2 separate regions of the Homo sapiens genome follow, and region 2 is linked to region 1. Evidence: fine-mapped expression QTL. Tissue or cell type: whole blood. Region 1 holds a variant in brackets; the other region holds the start of a gene. All regions are shown on one strand. Distances are between the middles of the regions.

Region 1 (5,630 bases):
ACGCTCTCCTCGAATCCAGCCAACCCTGGTTATGAGAGAGTGGGGTCGCACCGTACAGGGAGAGTTGGAGGGGTAAGAAAGAAGTGAGCAGACACCCCGAAACAGATCCACGCAGCAGGCAAGTGTGTCGCTGTGGCCCTTCACCTGCCCTGACCTGGACTTCCTTGTCTGGCTTCCTCATAGGAAGTGTCTACACCACTACACTCATGAAAAGTGAAATTCAAGGGACTCACGAGGACCCCTGGAACCAAAAACTCTTAATCCCACTTACTGTCTGATTTTGGGAATTCCTTTTATGGAACCCAAAGCCTTTTCTCTCTAATAAATGAGAATAATGTCAATGCAAAATACTTTTAAAGAGGCAAAACAGCTGACAGACTAATTCACATTAAGGTGTGGATGACTGACAGGAGAGGTCCCTTCCCAAGAGCGGGGTCTGCAGGGGAGGGCTCAGGACAGTGGGTGCTGCAGAAGGAGGCAGGTGCACCTTAGGATTGGGAATGGAGACTAGAACCAGGACACTGGGGACACCTAAGACAAGCTTCACCAGCCAAAAGCATTGCCAGCCCCAGCTGAGAGTCACACACTCCTTAAATGTGTTAGAGGGGACTCATTTGACCTTTCGATCCAGCCTGGCTGTGGCGGCCATTCCAGAGGGTCTGCCCATCGTCGTCATGGTGACGCTGGTCCTGGGAGTGCTGCGGATGGCCAAGAAGCGGGTCATCGTGAAGAAGTTACCCATCGTGGAGACTTTAGGTGAGGGACTCCAGCTGGTGGAATCCTTACACGTGGAATTGAATGGGGGCTTGGCTGTCAGGGCAATCCAGCCTGGGGGTTTCACAAGCCTGAGGATGGCAACTTCTCTTCTATAAACTGGTGTTTGTTGTACCAGGTTGCTGCAGCGTTCTCTGTTCTGACAAGACGGGGACTCTGACTGCCAATGAAATGACAGTGACCCAGCTTGTAACGTCAGATGGGCTTCGTGCCGAGGTGAGTGCCAAAGGAATTTACAAGCCTTAAGGATGCACCCAGCCAGGCTGTCTCCTTTCTAAACTAAGCACACAATGTCTTCTAGAACACAATAAGGAAGAAATAAATTGGGGTCATCTTATAATCTCCTTGCTAACATGACTGATTTTGTTTTTAATCATCCCATACTTCCTTTTAATAGATATGACCAATTTAAGGTAGCCTCCTTTTTTAGTTACTTATTAATTATAAGCACATTGCAAAATTTAAAAGCTAGAAAAAATCTTCCATACCTTCCACGATAAACTAACCGTGATTAGTCCATTTGTGGTTTGTTTGTTTGTTTGTGAGAGACAGAGTCTTGCTCCGTCACCCAGGCTGGAATGCAGTGGCTGATCTCTGCTCACTGTAACCTTCACTTCTCGGGTTCAAGCGACTCTCCTGCCTCAGCTTCCCAAGTAGCTGGGACTACAGGCATGCCCTAATACGCCGAGCTTATTTTTGTATTTTCTAGTAGAGACGGGGTATCACTATATGTTGGCCAGGCTGGTCTCAAACTCCTGACCTCAGGTGATCCGCCCGCCTTGGCCTCCCAGAGTGCTGGGATTACAGGCGTGAGCCACCACGCCCAGCCTGTTTTATTTTTTAAGCCAGGGTCTTGCTGTGTCGCCCAGGTTGCAGTGCAGTGGTGCAATCATGGCTCACTGCAGCCTCTAACTTCTGGGCTCAAGGGATCCTCCCACCTCAGCCTCCCAAGTCCTTGCGTGTTTTTCAGTGTCCTCTGCGTGCTTGGCGTAATTGGAAGCTCTCTGAATGTGCAATTTTTTTATCCTGATATTTTTTCTACAAAACTGGCCAAACCAAGGGGTGAACAGGTGATGGTCCATGGGCCAGTGCTTGTTTGAAAATAAAGTTTCCTTGGTGTACCACCACACCCATTTGTGTACATATTGCCAATGGCTGCTTTCATGCCTCAGTGTGCCGCAACGGCAGAGCTGAGTAGCCACGACAAAGGTGGTATGGGCTGCAAAGGCTAACACGTTTACCCAGCGCTGTTCTTGGAATAGAAGCACTCTTCTATGCTAGTTCTTAGTTTTCTTAACCATCACTTGTACTGGCTGCAGAGTATCCCACTGAGTCAACTTGCTGCAACTTACTCATGCCTGGTACTGTGTCCATCCATGACGTATCCAATTAATCAATAATCTTTCAGAGAACATCTTCATACTGAAAGCCCTGTCCACGTTTAGGATTGTGTCCCTGGAATGGATCCCCAGGACAGAGATTGTGGGCCAACTGGGGGAGCATGTTTTTGACTCTTGGCGAAACCCTTTCTTCTGCCTCGCCCTGCAGGTCAGCGGAGTTGGGTATGACGGTCAAGGGACTGTGTGTCTTCTACCATCCAAGGAAGTCATTAAGGAATTTTCCAATGTCTCAGTGGGAAAGTTAGTGGAGGTAGGTGTCAAAAGCGCCATGAGGGAAATAGGCATTTACATTGAGGCTT[C/A]TGGGGCTCCTCTCTGAAAAGGGAAACAGCCATTGAACCTACTGGTTCTTGACAATGACTGGCCCATCCAGGGGTGAGGCTGGCACAGCACTGAAAAAATGGCCTCAAAAGTGATGGAGACATCAGAAGTAAGACGACAGCTAGGCTGGGCACAGTGGCTAATGCCCGTTATCCCAGCACTTTGGGAGGCCAAGGCAGGAGAATCACTTGAGGCCAGGAGTTCGAGACCAGCCTGAGCAACGTAGTGAGACCCTGTTTCTATTATTTTTTTTAAAAAAATTATTTAAAAAGAAGAGCTAGAAGCCTCTGTACTCATCACTGCCCACTGGGAAGGCTCTAAGGAGACTCCTGCCCAGAGACGTGCCCGATGAATGGTAAAAAGTGAGCCTGTGATGAATTTCCCCTATTGTTATTAGTGAGCCTGTGATGATGTTCCCCTGTTGCTGTGATGAGTCCTGCGGTCCGAGCTGTACTCACCCTTTCACAGGGGCTCCCTCCTCCCCATGTAGCAGGCACCCTTCTTCCTCTGTACAGTTCAGTGAGCGCCACTTGCAAAGGACCTGCCTCCAGGGGCCACTTCACTATCACAGCAAACGCTGTCTTGGTTTTGCAGATTAAAAATCAAAAATATGACCAGGCGTGGTGGCTCATGCCTATAATCCCAGCACTTTGGGAGGCCAAGGCGGGTGGATCACCTGAGTTCAGGAGTTCAAGACCAGCCTGGCCCACGTGGTGAAACCCCATCTCTACTAAAAAATATAAAAATTAGCTGGGCATGGTGGCACACACCTGTAGTCCCAGCTACTCAGGAGCCTGAGACAGGAGAATTGCCTTGAACCAGGGAGGCAGAGGTTGCAGTGAGCTGAGGTCATGCCACTGCACTCCACCCTGGGTAATAGAATGAGACTCCATCTCGAATGAATGAATGAATGAAACAAAAATATGCAAAACTAGTAATAATAAAAAAGAAAAGAAAAGAAATGGGCAGAGAAGTAATGCGAGTGTCCAGGCTCACCAGGCCGGGAAGGAAGAGCGCTGGGAATCCCACTCTTTTTGCTTGTCTCTTTTTCATTTTTTAAATATTTATGTATAAATTGAGGTAGAAGTCATCTACCATGAATTCACCCCGTTAAAGTGCACAATTCAGTGGTTTCAATTTGTTCACAAGTTGTGCAAACTTCACCACTGTCTAGAATACTTTGTCACCCCAAGTGGAAATGCCATCATCCCCATTATCGGTCGCTCCCCGTTACCCCACACTCGTCACCACCCGTGCACCTGCCTCCCTGCTGGGTTCCCTCATGATAACTTTATGGGAACCAACATTCAGCACAGCCAAGAAATAGTCACGATGTTTCTTTTAAAAAGCCGGGACGCTGAGTTGTTTTAAAGAGCAAGTCTTGTCCCCACAACCCCAGCTGTAAAAATGGGACAGGCCCACAATGTCTAACTTTTTCATGAGCCCAGTACTAACTACAGATGTCCGGACAATCCCCTTTTAGGCGGGCTGTGTTGCCAACAATGCGGTCATCAGAAAGAACGCCGTGATGGGGCAGCCCACCGAGGGTGCATTGATGGCCCTGGCGATGAAGGTAGGAGGTCCTGGGGTGGCTCTGCGGGGAATTCTTTCGCTCGGGGCTGGATTCATTGGTAGAAAGCCAGCTCCTGTCTGAGCTAACAGGAGTGGGGACGTTAGGTAATCATGGAAGAAAATGGCCCACACTGGCCTTGGGCCATCTGTTGGTGGTGGAGGAGGTGAGCTCTGAGATTCCACGGGACTTCAGCAAGTTCTGCAGGTCTCTAATCCCTCCACCAGCGATTCCAAAAGAATCCTATGAGCTTCCCTGTGGTTCAGGCCCTGGTCAGGTGTTGAGGCGACAGACAGTGGAACGAGACTCCCTATGCACCCAACACGACCCTGTGCTCACCGAGGCACCACTGGGAGGGGCTGGTTCCTGGGAATGTATTCGATTGACTCCGGGGTTCAGTGTTAGACCCTGAGCTCTGTGGCTGTGCAGGGTTGCCCCAGGCCATTCTGTACCCAGCACCAGGTACCAAGTGGCTGCTTGCAGTGTGGAGGGGATGGGTGGGAGCTGATGGGGGCCTGCTGCATTCTGTGCTCAGAGGACAAGTTAGAAGAAGGAGAGGCAGAAAACATGGGCTGGGAATGCAGGTGACAGGAAAGCAAGGAGAAGAGAGGACAAAGGACATGGGAAAGGAGGGGCCGGCAGAGGTTAAGAGGAGGGAGCAAAGGAAGGAAGAAGGTGGCCCCGGTCAGCTCCCACGTCTGTTTCCATGGCCACTTGGCCTGGGTCCCTCCTCTTCAGCCAGAGCTGGGGCTCCCCTGGACACTGTGGGAGCTCCTTTCCCCGACCCGCTCCGTGCTTTCTGCTGTGTGACTTGTCTCTGACTCGGGTGTGATCAGAACCCTCTCCATCAAGGTCAAGGGAAAAGCCCGACTCAGGGTGCTCATCCCCCAGCACGGACCCCTCGCTGCCGCCGAGCCTGGCCCCTGCACTCACCCTCCCTTCCTGCTTCCTCCTGGACTTTGACCACTCCTGCCTGTTCTCACTGGCGAGTGCCGACTTTCTCTTCAAGTTCACTCCAGTTTCCACCCCAGCAGACACCTCTCCTCATCCCGGGCTCACTTCACTGCCTTGTATTTTCAGCTTACCTGTCCCATCACTGAGCACCAGGGCTCACTTCACTGCCTTCTGTTATCAGCTTACCTGTCCCTCCCTCCAGTGCAAGACTCCAACCTCCCACACCACTGCCTTCCCAAAGCTGGTGCTGGGCGGGGGAGAGGTGGTCGCCCTCTCATAAGCCCCCGTGTTGGTAGATCAGGTGCTTTTCCCCAGTGTAAGAACATTGGAAAGTCATTACAGGCTGAGTGCAGTGGCTCAAATCCCAGCACTTTAAGAGGCTAAGGCGGGAGGATCATTTGAGGCCAAGAGTTTGAGACCAGCCTGGGCAACATAGCGAAAACCCATCTCTACAAAAAATATAAAAATTAGCTGGGCATGGTGGTGCATGCCTGTGGTCCCAGCTACTCAGGAGGCTGAGGCAGGAGGATCCCTTGAGCCCAGGAGTCTGAGGCTGCAATGAGCTATGATCACACCACTGCACTCCAGTCTAGATGAGAGAGATCCTGCCTCAA
Region 2 (5,000 bases), 64 kb after region 1:
AGGATCATTTGAGGCCAGGAGTTTGAGACCAGCCTGGGCAACATAGTGAGACTTCGTCTCTGCCAAAAATACAAACCTCAGCCGGGTGTGGTGGCGTGTGACTATAGTTCCAGCTATTCAGGAGGCTGAGGTGGGAAGATCGCTTGAACCAGGAGGCAGAGGTCGCAGTGAGCCAAGATCACAACAGTGCACTCCAGCCTGGGTGACAGAGCAAGACTCTGTCTCATAAAAACACAAACAAAAGTTCCAGCAGCCCATAATAAGTGACCAAGATGTTTTGCTTGACCAGACTTTAGTCAGGCTCCTGGGCCCATCTGTGTACCTCTTTGTAAAATCTGGTTTTAGCAAAACAAAAAACAAACAAACAAAAAAACCCACAAAACCACTCATCCTTGATATTTGATCACCATTATCTGTTCACTTGCTATCTAACCAGGTTTAATGCTTAGGTTAGGGATATCCAATCTTTCAGTTTCCCTGGGCCACACTGGAAGAACTGTCTTGGGCCACACATAAAACCCACTAACAATAACTGATAAGTGCATATATCTACATATATGGTAAAAAAAAAATCTCATGTTTTAAGAAAGCTTATGAATTTGTGTTGGATGTCATTCAAAGCCGCCTTAGGCCACATATGGCCCACGGGTTGGACGAGCTTGCCCTAGGTGATGTCTGATCACCCTGGCCTGCCTTCAGTAACAAACTGCTAGGTAAGCTTACCCAGAATCCACCCTAGCGCCCTGATGTTTCCTCAGTCATCTTCCATCCACTGATCCCCACCCTGCTTCCTGGCTTCCCACTTGCCCATGCTATAATCAGAGTTGAGCCCAATCTCTCTCCTTTACTACAAAATCCCATTGCTGTGGTCCCTATACCCATTGCAATGGTCTTCAATAATTAATGTGCTTTTAATAAGCATCATTAATTAATTTCTTTAACATAAGGTTGAGAAGATTAAATAAGGTAACCCAGGGCATTTGATCTGCTTACTGGAGGTCAGAGACAGAATAATGGGCCCAAGACAACAGAGAATGGCTCCTTGGGATCTTGTCTTAGAACAAGAGAAACTGCCCTGCTTGGAAGAAACGGAAGGTTGCTCTGCCTCCGTGATGGAGGGGTGGACAGGGACCGATTGTCTGCAGGATGGCCCCCAAGGTTCCCACTAGTATCCTAGGAATGGCTTAGTCACCTCCTGCTCAGAGCTTCTCCAACAGGCTGTTACATGGCTGCTTCCCACCCTGGCTGCCAAGCTCCAACTCTCTACTCCAAGGGCCCCGCATCCCTAGAGCCACACAAGGGTCCCTCCGTACCCCCACAAGCTGGGGAGATTCCAACTGCCTCATCTGGACAGGCTTCGAAGTCCTGTCTGTGTCTCAGAGCCCAGAGGCCCTTGTGCGAAGGGGCAGCTTGAGCCTGGGCAAGAAGTTCCTGTGGGCCAGAAGGTGACCTGTCCTGTGCTGGCCACCTACATGGCCTGGGAACAGTTATCAGCTCACTGTCCTGGAAAAGCCCAGATGGGTGTGGTCAGAATACAAGAAGGAAAACCCCCTCCACACACACTTCAGTGTCTACCCCAGACTCGCCTCCTCCGTGGAGGCACCCCTCCCTTTCCGCGTCTACACAGGCTCTGAATCCCCCTTCAACACGGCTGGCCTTGGCCCTGGGGGAAGCACCTCGCCACCCTCTTACCTTGACCACATAAACAGCGGGAGGTGCAGGATGATTCTGATCCCCCCCAGGAGACCCTCCCTCCATCCCGCCCCGCTGTCCCCACCCCTCACCTCCCCGCAGCCTTCACCTCTCCCTCCCCCGACCCGAGGGCCTGAAGAGGCGTGGGAGGCCAGGGAGGGGCAGGGCCCAGGCCTACTCTGGACCCGTCTGCTCCAGTCCCCCGACTCAGCTGGGCCTGCGCCTCTGGGTCAGCTCACTGCGAACCTCAGCCCAGGTACCTACCCTGCCGGGCTTCCTGGTGCTGTCCGGTCCGGTCCAGCAGCCCACGGGCTCCTCTCGAGAGCCGCCCCTTCCCTGTTGCCAGGCAACATTGCTGAGGGGCAGTCATTTGGTCCAATCGTGGAAGCGGAGGTGTGGGGCGGAACCCAAGAGAGGAGTCAGCCAATGGTGACGCGCCTCACAGGGAGTGAGCCGAACCCGGTGGGTGCGGCTCGGGGCGGGGCCGCGGTCTGCGGGAGGAGCGGCTGCAGGCCCGGGAATCCGGCCCGGCTGCGTGCGTACCAAGGAGGCGCCTGGAGAGGGCGGCCAATGACTCAGGCCAGGCCAGGCCAGCAGTGGTACCTGGGGAGAAGGGGTGTCTGGGCTGGGCGCTGGAGCGGAGTAGCCAGGGTGTGGGAGATCCTGGGGGAGAGGCTGAGCTTGGGGGTGAAGACACCCGGGGGAGGAGAGTGGCCCATGTGGAGCCCATGCAGAGGCCTCTGCAGTGCAGCCTCCTGGGCCCCAGGCAACTCTCCCCTGACTCCCCGGCCTGCTGGTCCTGGCCTAGAGCCTCGGGTCCGCCTCCCCTCGGGCCTCCCTCTGCCAGCTGCCCCTGCCTCGCTCTTCCCTGGCACCAGGTCCTTCCCGGCAGCCATCAGGCGCCAGCTCCACAGCCTGGCTAAACAGACTCCCTCCACCCCACGTGCGCCTCTTCAGCCGGTTCCCGTTCACTCCAAGACGTCTGAACCTGTCACCCCACTTCTTCAGCTCGTTCCTTCTCAAACCCACCGAAACCTGGTCCCGGGGGCCTGCTCACTACATCCGAGGTGCGCTTTGGGTCCTCGCAGGCAGCATTTGGCGCTTGGTGATCGTGCTCTCATCAGACCTCTCTCTTGGGCACCCCGGCGCCCATTCCTGGCCCTGGCTCGCTCGCTGTCCCTGGTGGTCTTCCCTGGGCCCTTCTGGCTTCTGCCCTGGAGTTTCTCGACTTCTCCCTACTCTCTCCACCCCACGCATCCTCCCTGGGGTCCACCTTCCTGCAGATTCAGCTCCCGCATGTCCATGGTACCAGTTCTCTCCCCTGCACGGCCTGCTGGTTTTCCAGCCTGGAAAACCGTGACTTCGCCCGCCAACGTCCGCTTGAGTTGGTCTCGAACTCCTGACCTCAGGTGATCTGCCTGCCTCGGCCTCCCACAGTGCTAGAATTGTAGGGGTTAGCCACTGCACCCGGCTGGTCACCTCTTATTCTTTAAGCTGGAACAAAAATAGAAGGCTTTCTGCCTGAGGGCAGCAGGCCTGGCTGGTGACAGTGCACAAGGTAGGGCCCCTCACCAAGACATTGCTCTGAGATCCAAGGCCAATGTCCCAGGAGAAGCAGCTCCACAAACTAACGCATCTACAGCCAGGGTACCCCCAGCTGTGGATGCCAATGACACGAGTAGCCCCAGCTCTTCACCTCGGCTTCTTAGAGTAGGTGCCTGTCACCTGCAGCCAGGGCTCCTGATGCCCAAGACACACGGGCCTTTAGACATGAAGGACTAGACCCTGTTTCCAGCCTTCACACCCCTGTACTTCCTGCACACATCAACCAGGTGTGTCTTTTTCAGTGCCATCCGAGGTAGTGGCATTTTTGACATAGCAACAGTTTTTTGTAGGCTGAGGCACACCAAGGGTGGACAGCAATGGTGGCCTCTCAGGTGCAGGTACTGGGGGGTCCGCAGGAGCAAACCGGAGCCGATGTGTCAGCCTGGGCAACATAGTGAGACTCCATCTCTACAAAAAATGAAAAGCTTGGCCGGGCGTGGTATGGCACACCCGTAGTCCCAGCTACTCAGGGAGCCGAGGCAGGAGGATCGCTTGAGCCTCAGAGGGCGAGACTGCAGTGAGCCGTGATTGCACCACTGCACTCCAGCCTGGGCAGGAAAGTGAGATCTTGTTATTAAAACGGTGAAACAAAATCCCCCAGAAAACCACAGAAGCAAATGCGGAGCGGCGCCGTTTGAGAGCTACCGAAGTGGCGCCACCTCGTGGCCATACCCTCCAGAAACAGCCTACACTCCAATCTGCCCACCTGCCTGGTTGGAAAGTTTCTGTTTTTGATGGAGTTTCACTCTTGTTGCCCAGGCTGGAGTGCAATGGCGCAATCTCGGCTCACTGCAGCCTCCACCTCCCAGGTTCAAGCAATTCTCCTGCCTCAGCCTCCCGAGTAGCTGGGATTACAGGCATAGGCCACCACACCCAGTTAATTTTTATATTTTTAGTAGAGACGGGGTTTCACCACGTTGGCCAGGCTGGTCTCGAACTCCTGACCTTAGGTAATCCACCCACCTCGGCCTCCCAAAATGCTGGGATTACAGGCATGAGCCACCGCCCCTGGTATTCTCAATTTTTTTAAATAAGAGATTTATATTGCTTGACATTTTGCATATAAAGTGAGACTCTTTTAAAAATATACATCATGCTATTTCAACAAGCTGGTGCTCCCGGGGATGTCCATGGGCTGTCCAACTGCCCCCGGGGCACCAGCTTCTGTTTTTTATGCTGACTTTGGGCACTGAACTCTCCTTGGCTCCCAGAGGTCCTGACCAGGCTGGTCCTGCCATCCACAGCGGTGCCTCTGCTAGCGACATCCCTGCCCAATTTTCCATGTCCAGCTTTGACACCTCCACAGAAAGGCTGAGCCACCACCGGGCCCCCATTGTGGCTGAGCATCCACTCTCTCTTCCCCATGTGCTCCTTGCCCCCGACTCCCCATCTCTGGAACCCAAGTTTGGGCTGCATGGACCACCTTCTGGGCCAGGCTGTTAGGAGGCCACCACCAAGCAGCAAACGCAGGAGCAGCCGTGCCCTGAGGAGGCACCACCAGCAGCCTCCAGCAGCACTCGGTGAGGCGGGCAACGATCCATCTGTGCCGCCAGCATGGAGCCGGAAGCCACGGCTGACTTGTGCAGTAGAGGAAGTCGAGTTCATTTTATTGAATTTATTCTCATTTTCAGTTTGAATGGCCACATGTGGCAGGCAGTTATTCTATTGTGCAGTGCTTGCCGGACCACATGCAACAATTCAAA

The links. PIP is the estimated chance that this variant, and not a neighbour inherited with it, causes the effect.
Region 2: it holds the start of MEAK7, and the variant in region 1 is fine-mapped to the expression of MEAK7 in whole blood (INTERVAL, PIP 0.99).

Annotation. Positions count from the first base shown.
Region 1 is chr16:84,438,535-84,444,164 of GRCh38, forward strand. ATP2C2 (ATPase secretory pathway Ca2+ transporting 2) reads left to right here. Exons shown (of 27, transcript NM_014861.4): 12 at 632-756; 13 at 893-990; 14 at 2,323-2,424; 15 at 3,976-4,065. Among named protein-coding and RNA genes, the nearest start is that of ATP2C2-AS1, 26 kb to the right of the region's middle. The variant C/A (reference allele first, on the strand shown) is at 2,474.
Region 2 is chr16:84,502,645-84,507,644 of GRCh38, forward strand. MEAK7 (MTOR associated protein MEAK7) reads right to left here and starts at 2,015. Exons shown (of 8, transcript NM_020947.4): 1 at 1,957-2,015. It overlaps LOC124903736 (a long non-coding RNA gene), which reads left to right and starts at 2,158. Exons shown (of 2, transcript XR_007065149.1): 1 at 2,158-2,291; 2 at 4,702-5,000. RefSeq lists enhancers at 1,425-1,925, 2,046-2,993, 2,356-2,475, 4,603-5,000 and silencers at 1,756-1,805, 3,991-4,110, 4,094-4,330.